Linked DNA regions of Homo sapiens: region 1 is linked to region 2. Evidence: fine-mapped expression QTL. A gene starts in region 2. The other region holds a variant in brackets. All regions are shown on one strand. Distances are from middle to middle. Region 1 overlaps PEBP4 (phosphatidylethanolamine binding protein 4). Region 2 holds the start of PEBP4 (phosphatidylethanolamine binding protein 4).

Region 1 (5,374 bases), 44 kb before region 2:
CCCCACAGGGCTCCAGTGTCCCCAGGGATGCCCCAGTTTCTGGACTCTCCCAATCCCACATCCTCCCTTTCTCCATCCAGCCTAAGGGCGGTAGTTGCTCATTTTGGGGTGCCTCTCACCCTCTTTTTTGGCTCCTCAGACCTTCCTATCACCTACAAGGACTTGTGCCTTTCCAAGTGTCCAAGGCTGGCCAACTTACAGACCTGGATGCAGACAGGCCAGAGCCCCTCAGACTCGGGCTTCCTGCAGCTACTGTATTTATCTGTTCACTTTTCTTATGTCTGTCCTGCTCTGCCAGGCTGAAAACTTCCTGAGTGCAGGACTGGGACCATCTCACTCGCAGTTGTATGTCCCCAGTGCCTAGAGCCATGCCAGGTATCTAATAGACACAAAATACTTGTTAAGAGAAGAAATTAGTGGAAATCCCTTAAGTTCCAAATAGCGTTCTCCCCATGGGGCAATGCTTCTCCTTTGGGATTCACTCTCCCTCTTTGGAATAACTCCCCCTGGAATGAATCTCTGTTGCTGCCTGGATCACACTCAAGCCATCCAGTCCTACATGGATGATCCTGCCCATGACAGAGGGAGGCAGTAGCATACAGCAATTAGGGATGAAACTGTGGAGTGGGAGGCCACGCTCCATTACTACTTGTGTGGCCGTGAGCAGGTGGGGACTATTGACTTAACCTCTCCACACCTAAGTTTCCCCAGCAGTAAAATGGTGCTGAGAGTGGCTACTCTGTCCTCAGGCTGTTGTAAGAATTACTCAAGGTAATAAGCGTAGAAGCCTGGCTACCTTGTGGGTGTTGAATCACTGCCATCCCTGGCTCAATGGGGCAGATGAGGAAGGGGTTGTCAATGATACCTGGGAGGCTTCTCCAACATGTGGCTGTCACTGGTTTTCTGTGAAGATTAGAGAACCCCCCAGCCCTCCATCTCATTCACCTTTTTCCTGCTTCTCCCTATCCTTTCCCCAGTTCTTCAGAGAAAATAAGCATTTAGAACTGGGATCCATCCTATCACTTTTCAGGGAAGGAAATGGGGACACAGGAAATCACAGCAGCTTTGCCAAGGCCCACAGCCTGTTATTGGCAGAACTGGAGACATGGGATGTCTTAGTCCAACTCTAGGAAAGTGTGCGTCAACAGCACCAGTGACCCAGACAGTGCTGGCCACACCCAGGCAGCCCTGCACTGAGCAGAGGGGGGCGGAGCCAGCAGGGGGTCCCAGTTGAAGGGAGGTGGGTGCTTTTCTTTCTTGACCTCACAGATCCAGGATTTGGGGTGGTGTGGAGAATGTACCACGACTTTTTGTCATGCACGCATGGTGATGCTACCATGCCCTATTTTGATCATGAACAGAGGGAGGCCTCAAACTGGCAGAAAAGGGACCGTGGCTCCCGGAGAGAAAGCAGCCGCAAATGTGAAACTATGAAGGTGTATTAATCGTGTCTTTTTATTCTGTAATTTTTGTGCTTTGACATTTTGGGGCCTCACTGATCCTGGAGGGACTGCCCCTCCCAGGGCTAATTCCTAGAAATAGGAAACTCCTCTGTGAGAACAATTTGCTTATGAAAACCTACCAGTCCAGTGCCCATACCACCAACCACCTCCTCTATCAGATTTTTACACTCCAGGCCACTATCCACCTGCCCAAACCACCCCAGGGTGGGTACTAGACCACTAGGAACAGTCCTTATACCCAGAGCCTATTGAAATGATTCATACTAACCAACCCAACCCTGCTCACCCTACCCCACCTGTTCCTCCCACGATGAAGACTCCTACTCAGGTTTTTCCCTAGTTCCCTCTGCCTCCCAACCGAGCCTGGGGTATCCCCCATGTGGCCCTGCGAGACATACCCCCTGCCTCTAGGGATCTGTGATTATAAAACTTCCTCCTTCATGAGAGCCATTTCTGTGTCTGCATGTCTTCCCACACCTGATTAAAACAAATCCCCGACACCATCAAAACAACAGGGGCATCTATAGAAAGCAGGGATTATGATGCTTGCTTAAAGGTTCAGAGATTCGGACCTGGAAGGATGCTTATCACAATTATCCTTCATTATATCCTTGATCCAAACACTTTCTGATGTGAGAACAGCCCCAAGGAGGCAGCAGAAAGTCCCATCAGTTTCTCACACTGAGATCAGCCTGCATAGTGTTTGCCACATCACCACTGCTTTGCATCACCCATTAACACACCCAGATCACTGTCCCAATACTCAAACCCACTCAAAAACCCACACCAGTGACCTGATCTCCCTGTGCCCCAAGGGGCTCTGGCCAGATCTCAACCTCCCACCCCCACATCCCTCTCCAGGGAAGGTTGTATCTGCACACTTAAAAAAAAAAAAAGGTGAGCTGAAGGTGGCACAAAATTAGTTCCTTCGACAGAAAAATTTGCTCCTGAAACACTCTGCCAACCTGCTAATGAGTCGTCTTGAACCTTGCGTGGTGTTACCTCTAATTTTGCAGCCTGCTAGGATTTGAGTTCCGTGGACAGCCTCACATTTGGTTTGGAATTATAGGCTGAGTTGCTGCTCACTCCTATTATTGTGCTGTCAATCTTGTATTAGCGCATTATAATATGGTACACTGAATGCATCTGTTCTGTATATCACAGGGCCTCATTGTCATTTGTTGAATCATTTTGTCTTATATGATTGTTAAGCAATTATTTCATCTCAGGTGGCTTAAATTTTGATTACTGTATACTATTTGCGGGGGATACAAAAAAAAG[G/C]GGGGACAACTCCACCATCAGCTGATTTCACCAATTCTCCGCTCCAGGGTTCACACATATTTATGTTGGAGTGCAAAGGCTTCCGATGCCCGGACACGTGTCCTCCAATCTGAGAAGGGAACCAGGGAAGGGGCTGGAGTTGATGCATCTTGACTTAAGGGCTGAAGAGTTGGCAATTTTGGAGGCCAGTGAAGAGCCACGTAGAAAATGTCCCGCTGCCTGCCATCATCAGCAGCTCCTCTTGCTCCCATCCTGCAGAGAGGGCTCCCACACAGAGAGCAGACACAGGGACCTCTTTAAAATGAAGATGAAATGCACCTGGTTCTACCACCTAGTTAGAAGCAGTTATGAAGGTTGAAGAGCTGTTATCTGAGATTTATAGCCCCAAATCTATGAGATAGACTCTCCTAATTAATAAGACAAGGATGACTAGAAAGTTGTGAAAACTACCTGGCAGGGCTTGGAGCCTGCTGTCACCACCACGATGATAGCACTGTCTTTGCTGCTGAGCCTATTAGAATGTCAGGATGTGCATTCTTCTCTCCTAGTGGGATGGCACGGTTCACCTGGCTATTACAGAGAAGCAAGTGCAGATCGTGACTTAAGGCTCCGGGAGGAGAGTTAATCAGGGAAGAGCTGGTTGACAAGACTCACTCAGTGCATGACTTGAGAGCACCAAGAGGGGGAAAGGGAGAAGAAAGAACCTCTTCCAAAGGCAGCATCCACCCCCTTGACAAAGGGCCATTTCCCCCAGCCCGGGGTGCTTTCTGACTTCCTTTGTTCCCCGATGAGCATTTTCTTCCTTGTCCCCAGCCTTCACATAAGTTCAATTCAACATCCTCTCTCTCTTCTCCCAATGTCCTCTCCTTAATTTTGCTGCATCCTCCAATGTGAATGTTTGCCTCCTGGTCTGGGATCTGTCTTATTCCCTTTATCTCACCTGAAAAAACTCTCCCCTTTAATCTCTGCTCATTCAAGTCCTGCCCATCCTTCAAAGTATGGCCAAGCTCACCTCTTCCAGAAAGCCCCACCCTGTGGTGTTATCTCCATCCTGAATCACAGCAGCACTTACTGTGAGATAACTATCAGGTTACATCTATCAGAGTTCAATGCACTCTCCCCAAATGAAGTGGACACTTGTTGGCAGTAAGAAGAGAAGCTTTTTGCACCAAGTGGTGCATTCAATGCAATGCAAGGAGACTGTGACGATACTGAAATGAGTATTACCCGGCCCCAGGAGATGAACACCGTCCTTGCTTGATGCCAGTTCATAAAGAGAGCTCTTGTTTATTGAGAGCTTATGAGTGCTGAGGAATTCACATAAATCATCTCATCTAAATTTTCCAACAATCATGAGATGGTTTCTCTTATTTCCTCCTTTTACGCATGAAGAAACTGGGGCTCAGGAGGTTAGATGACTTTCTCAGAGTCACACAGATAGTACAGGGCTGACCCAGAATTCAAGCCCAGGTCTGGCAGACTCCAGCACCCGCCCTTTGCCTCCACGACCAAGTACAAGCAGCAGGCTGGCACTGGCCTTTCCCTGCTATGACTGCCGAGCTGGGTTACACCTGCTGCTGGTCCCCAGCACCAGGCACACGACGTAACTGTGAGTCCTCCGAGTATGTGAGGGAGCTGGCACTCACCTTCTGCCTGAAGCAAAGGAGCTGTGCTCTTCCGTTTCAGTGTGAAAAAGCCTCAGAAGATGCCCAGCTTAGAAGGACACAAGAGACAGTCTGTGGACAACATCTCCACTTCCTGGCGTCCTCAGCACTGTTGCTAGTGAAGCTACTCTGCCCAAGGTCTCCAGAGAGCTTCTGAAAGAAGTCAGGACTCATGCATGCAGATGAATACGCCTCGTGGGTATTCACCAGGTCCTCTTGGGAAGCCAGCTCTGTGTCCCAGGCACACCGTCTGTGTGCAAGAGAAGGGGAGCACCTGAGTTTGGGAACTGCTTTCGTACCAGCTTATAGGCCACCCCAAGAACCGGCCTCCTGGCTTCCTAGTCACAGACCGCCTGCAGGGTTGACTTATGCATCCTTTTGCAGGAGACAGGCTCACTTCTCTCCTGTGACTAACATGGAATTACGGGTTAAGGAGGGAAGTTGTACTCACCTGTTGATTCATTTATTCACTCACTTGCTCACTCATCAATCATTTCTTCAACAATGAAACCCTTACTAGACAAATACTGACTCCCTGCTCCAGAATAACTATCTGTTCGGTGCTAGGACTGTCAAATGAGTAAGCGTTTCTTCCCACAGGCGTTCAGGGTCTATTTCTGCACTTTACAGACAGGCAAGACAGAAGTGATCAGAAGCGGCCACCAACCATGGAGTTCAGAAACACGGCACAGTTCTGGAAGAGGCGAAAGGCGGCTCTTCCATCCATGCTGGTCAAGAGGAAATTCAACACACCTCACAGCCATTGAATCTGACCAGGCGTGTAATACATCCCATCGTCTTGTCAGTTAGCAGCTGTGGGACCTTGAAGGCTTCTTAAATTCCCCAAGTCTAGACTTTCTTATCTTTAAAATGCAGCTGAAAACAATGCCTGTCTCATGGAGGTGTAAGGGTTAAATGGAATCATGTAGCAAGCATTCAGCACATGTCAAGTCCAGGTCAAGGCCA
Region 2 (5,374 bases):
GCTGCAGGTTTGGAGAATCATGGTTCTTTCCATTCTGCGACTGAGCCCAGGGTTGGGACCGTCGGTGGTTTTGCTGGTCTTGTCTGGGGTATCTCAGAAGCAGGGAAGGTCTGATTCCCGAGAAGCGTTACTCTTAACAATGTCTCACAGCTTGTCACAGTACATAAAATTCCTCCCTTATAGATTAATACCTTTAGGCATTGAGTCCAATCTTTAAGAGTTCCCTGGTAGACCAAATGCCCACAAGAGGAGTGCCTTCTCTGGGGGATCTCTTGCCAAGGTCAGAGCCTGAGCCGAGTGGGGATCTTGAGGAGGGGTCAGTGCAGGAGGTCCTGCTGTCTCCTCAGGGGTCCGATCTGTCCTTGATGCATTTTTCATTTCATCATCATTCATGATGCTCTCTTCCAAACAAAAATCTTCAGTGACAATAAAGACAAAGCTCCTCTTTTGCGATGATGGCTTGAAATCAAAAGACATCTTCCTGGCATGCAACCTTAAGGTCATAAGTCTCTTTCTCAGACTGGGGGCCTGCTGGTGTATTCTGGGAGTCCTGAGAATGGGCCCCCTTGACTCGAGTCTGGGAGCCCTGAACCTGGGGTGAAGGTTGTCAGAAGCAGATAGGGAAAGAGCGTGAGTGTGGAGTCAGACAAGGGGGCTAGATCTTGGCTCTGCTACTTTTAAGCTATGTAAACACTGTGGGCAGATTTCTTAATCTCTGGGGATTCTTCATCTGCAGAATGGGGGTGCTAACACAGACTTTGTAGGTTCGTTACTGACAGTGAAAGGAGTCAAGGAGTCCAGGCACCGGCAGAGCACCTGGCACACAGAAGGTGCCCTGGGACTTCCCACGTGTGTCCCCATGCATGGGTCACCAGGGCACCAACATGTGATCTTGGCAGGGCAGAGCCTAGGGCATCTGGAGCCTCAGGCTGGTCACCCCCAATGACCCTACAGACATCCTCATTTCCCACAGTGTGGGAAACACCAGGAACTGCTGAGGTCCTCCTTAAGGGGCCCTTATTGTGGCCCAGGCCTGCTGTACCCTGGCCCAGCTGACCTCTCCTGGTTACGGGGGTGTTGACCTTGCACTGCTCAGAGCGAGAAGCCTGCCAGCCCCTCAGCTCACTCAGCAGAGCACCTAGAAAATTAGATCCCACTTGTGAGAGGCAACCACGTTTCTCTTCCTCCTTCCACGTGAAAACTTCACCCAGAACTGTTTTCTTGCTTGTTTGTTTTTTTGTTTGTTTTTTGAGACAGAGTCTTGGTCTGTCGCCCAGGCTAGAGTGCAGTGGCGCAATCTCGGCTCACTGCAACCTCCACCTCCCAGATTCAAGGGATTCTCCTGCCTCAGCCTCCTGAGTAGCTGGGATTACAGGTGTGCGCCACCATGCCCGGCTAATTTTTTTTTATTTTTAGTAGAGACAGGGTTTCACCGTGTTGGTCAGGCTGGTCTCAAACTCCTGACCTTGTTATCTGCCTGCCTCAGTCTCCCAAAGTCTTGGGATTACAGGTGTGAGCCACCGTGCCCAGCCTACACCCAGAACTATTTAACAAGATTTTTCAAAATATACTGACACGAACAAAGTTTGTTACTTTTTGTTGTTGTTGTTGTTGTTGTTTAGGCAGGGTCTGGCTCTGTTGCCCAGGCTGGAATGCAGTGGCGCAATCATGGCTCAGACCAGCCTTGACCTCCTGGGTTTAAGCGATCCTCCCACCTCAACCTCTTGAGTAGCTGGGACGACAGGTGTGCATCAGCATGCTTGGCTAGTTTTTAAACTGTTTTGTAGAGAAAAGAGTCTCTCTATGTTGCCCAGGCTGGTCTCAAACCCCTGGGCTCAAGTGATCCTCCACCTTGGCCTCCCAAAGTGCTGGGATTACACATGTGAGCCACTTCACCCAACAAAAATGTTACTTTTTAAGAAGGATTCAACTACATAATTTTAAGAGAAGACATGTATTTATGGTTCTAAAAGTAATGTTTGTCAAAAATGTTTTAAATAAAATTAAAAAGAAAAACAAACATTTTCATGAACAGTAATGTTTGTGAAAATTCAAAGGTACAGAAGAGAGTAAGTAGTCAAAGTTCTTTTTCCTCCTCTCTCATTTCTCACACGTGGGCTCAGTGGGGTGTCCCCCTCCTCAGCCACCAAACTGGCAGGGAGGTTTGGCATCAGTTTGGCCTGGGGAGTCCTCAGGATGACCCACAAGTCCACACAAATGAAGGCTTGCTTTTCTAACCGGCAGAGTTGGTGAGGAGAGAGCCGAACGCCAGGCTTTCCAGCTTACCCAAAGTAGAAGCAGCTTGTGCCCTTGGAAGGGAAGAAGCCAGCCTCGTCACCCAACTCCATCCAGTGCCATGATCCCTAAAGGGCCCTGCACAAACGCTCCTGGGTCCTATCACTGACAAAAACCTCTCACACAGGAAGGGTCTAATCATACACCTTCTTTCATTCAAATGCCTCTTTGTTGGGGTTCTGGGGAGAGGGGGCATTCAGGCTGCAGGGAGGGATGGTCTCTCTCTGGGTCTCTCTCTGAGGGTCTCAGCCTCCTGCCCCCACAAAGACCCCCCAGGTTTGGAGGGCCCAAGCAGAGCCGACCACATACACAGCCCTCCTGGTCCTGGGAGAGGTGCATTCTGGAAGGCAGGAAGGAGTCTGTTTCTAAATCCCTTTCTCAGTGCCATCCTCCATCAAGGTGGTCTCCAGATCTGACACGTGTTCTGCCTTCCCATAAAATCAGGCTCAGGAGATGGTGCTTCTTGGTTCTGGATATACCCCTCCCTGCCATCTACCTGCCTGGTAGCCTCTGTGCCTCCCGCCTCCAAGCCTGCCCTGACTTACTGGCAAAAGAGGGTGTCCTCGTCCAAGAGGGCCTCATGGGCACACGGGCTGTTCTCATCCTCGTCTCCAGTGACCACCATCATGAGACCCAGTAACAGTGCTGCTGTGACCAGCCTCATTGTCCAACCCATGGGCACCTGGAACAGAAAGAACTTTAGAGCGGCTGGATCCCCTGCAGGGGCCTTCCTGCCCACTACCTGTGCCCCCGACCCCAGGGGCCCACTTGGCAGGATAGAGACCTCTGGTTAAGCACAGGGAGAAGGACAGGCAGCTTCCAGGGCTCCGCAGCTAATCCAGTCCACCACCCGGACACAAGTACTTTGGGAGGACTGGGCCTCTTCCAAGTTGGACTCAATGTACGTTCCTGGCAGAGGCCCCTCCCCTGGCAGGACACAGCTTTGTTGTCACTCTTGTCCTGGCTGCCAGGGCAGAGAGCAGGCTGCAAAGTAGAAGTGCTTATATAAGCTCCTCGGTGCAGCTCCTTGTCCAGTCCCTGCTGTTGGCCCAGGGATGGTCAGCTGGCCAAAGGCCAGCCTGCTCCTTGGCTGTAAGGCAAGCCCTGGGAAGCTGGTGACCCCAGGCTCAGGGCTAGGAGTTGGGCTGTGCCCCTCAGACCGGCTCTGACTCTCCTGGCCCCCATTCTTCCACCACCTGTCTCCACAGCCTGTGAGCTTCCCCAAGGTGGAGGTGGTTGGACACAGTGACCTTGTGTAGGAGGGACTGCTGCAGGGGGTGGGGGTAGGTGCACCCCAGACCGAGGCCAGCTCCGAAGGGCCAGCTCCGAAGGGCCAGCTGAGGACAGAAGGGTGCGTCTGGGTGCACCTTGCAGCTGTGCTGCACTCAGCACTCTCCCAAAATAATCGTATCTGGAGAAGGAGGTCTGGGGAGCTGCTTGGGGCTCAGAAAGGGGTGGCCTGCCCCAGCAGTGCACTGGGAGGAAGGGGAGCCGGGGACTGTCGCCTGCATTCCCTTGGGGAACAGTCCTGCCACCAGGTGCATGTGGGACTCTGGTTTGAGCCTGAGTGGGCAGGGAGAAGAATAAAGGCGGCTTGCAACAGGCTTTCCAATAGCTCTGCTCTCTGCTTCTCAGAGGCGGGGGTGGGAGAGACGTGCCAGCAACTCAGGACTCCTGGCTTCTGCTCTGAGCTCTCTCTGGATGCTGGGAGGCCACTGTGTCTCCCTAGAATGCACCACTTTTCCTTTTCACAAACAAGTAAAATAATTCCTGTCACCGTGGTGCCTTGCTAAGGAATATGAGATCATCGCTGTAAAGTACACGCAGCTAGACCTTTAGAGAAACTACTTTCAGCATAGTCTGCTTTCTGGCTCAATTCCTGCCTCCAGGATCCCAACCTGTAGCAAAAAGCCCCCCTTAGGGGCTACATATTAAACACATTTCTCAATCATTAGGTTCTCTGAAGTACAACCAGGACTCCCCCTTGCCCCAACCAGAAAACATATTCCCAAGATCTCCCCTAGTGGACAGAGTCTAATAGTAGCCTCCTCACAAGATCATTATGAGAATGAAATCAACCAGGTTAAGCCCTCAGTAAGGTGCCTGGCACATAGTAAATGCTCAATAATTTATGAATAGTCTAAGTATTCTCTCACGGATCCATCCATTCATTCATTCCTTTGCAACCCACTTCACTCATAGGCATTAAGCACCTCCCACGTGCCTGCCCCATGTTGGGCCCTGGGGTATAGGTTGAGCATGCAGCTCACAGGACAGCCACAGCCAAGGAGATGCTGCCAGAAGGGCTGCCCAAGACCAAGAAACTCATCTTCCAAATGGCATCCACTAGAGAAGTCTCAACTTTTCTGGGTGTCAACTCCTTTAGCACAGTGATGGCGGCCTGGAAGAAGGGAGAGCCCACAGTGCAGGTTGCTGCTGTTGAGCCCACTTCCAGTGGCGGTTCTTCCTTACTCCACGTGCCAGGCACTTTTATCTCCGAATCCTCATGCCAATCCTTGGAAATAGGCACTATTATCACCCCATCTTATGGAGGAGGAGACAGCACAGTGACATTAGTTAAAACCTGATCTTGGTCACCAAGAAGTGGCAGACCTGGAATTTGAACCCCAGGCTCTGGTTGAACCTGTGGAAACTGGGTTGAGTCCATTGAGTCCATGCTTTGTTTTGAGACAGGGTCTCACTCTCATCGCCCAGGCTGGAGTGCAATGGGGTGATGCTGGCTCCTGCAACCTCCGCCTTCTGGGCTTCAAGGGATTCTCCTGCCACAGCCTCTCAAGTAGCTGGGAGTACAGGCACACCACGGCTCTGGCTAATTTTTGTATTTTTTGTAGAGACGGGGTCTTGCATTGTTGCCCAGGCTGGTCTCGAACTCCTGGGCTCAAGTAATCCACCTGTGTGCTCCCAAAGTGCTGGGATTACAGGCGTGAGCCACCGCGCCCAGCCCAGAGTCCACGCTCTTAACCACCTGGCTCCACTGCACTCTGTAGCTGCTCCATTGCCTCTCACTCACTCCCTCTACATTCCCTTTGCTCTTGGGAGAAGGACCCAGAGTCCTTCA

The links.
Region 1: its variant is fine-mapped to the expression of PEBP4 in pancreas (GTEx, PIP above 0.99).

The regions. Positions count from the first base shown.
Region 1 is chr8:22,881,167-22,886,540 of GRCh38, forward strand. The region is part of intron 3 of PEBP4 (phosphatidylethanolamine binding protein 4); the gene reads right to left. PEBP4-AS1 (PEBP4 antisense RNA 1) reads left to right here. Exons shown (of 4, transcript NR_125433.1): 3 at 2,792-5,374. Among named protein-coding and RNA genes, the nearest start is that of PEBP4-AS1, 5.9 kb to the left of the region's middle. RefSeq lists an enhancer at 2,205-2,264. The variant G/C (reference allele first, on the strand shown) is at 2,745.
Region 2 is chr8:22,924,744-22,930,117 of GRCh38, forward strand. It overlaps PEBP4 (phosphatidylethanolamine binding protein 4), which reads right to left and starts at 3,171. Exons shown (of 7, transcript NM_144962.3): 1 at 3,080-3,171; 2 at 2,841-2,977. The coding sequence starts at 2,971.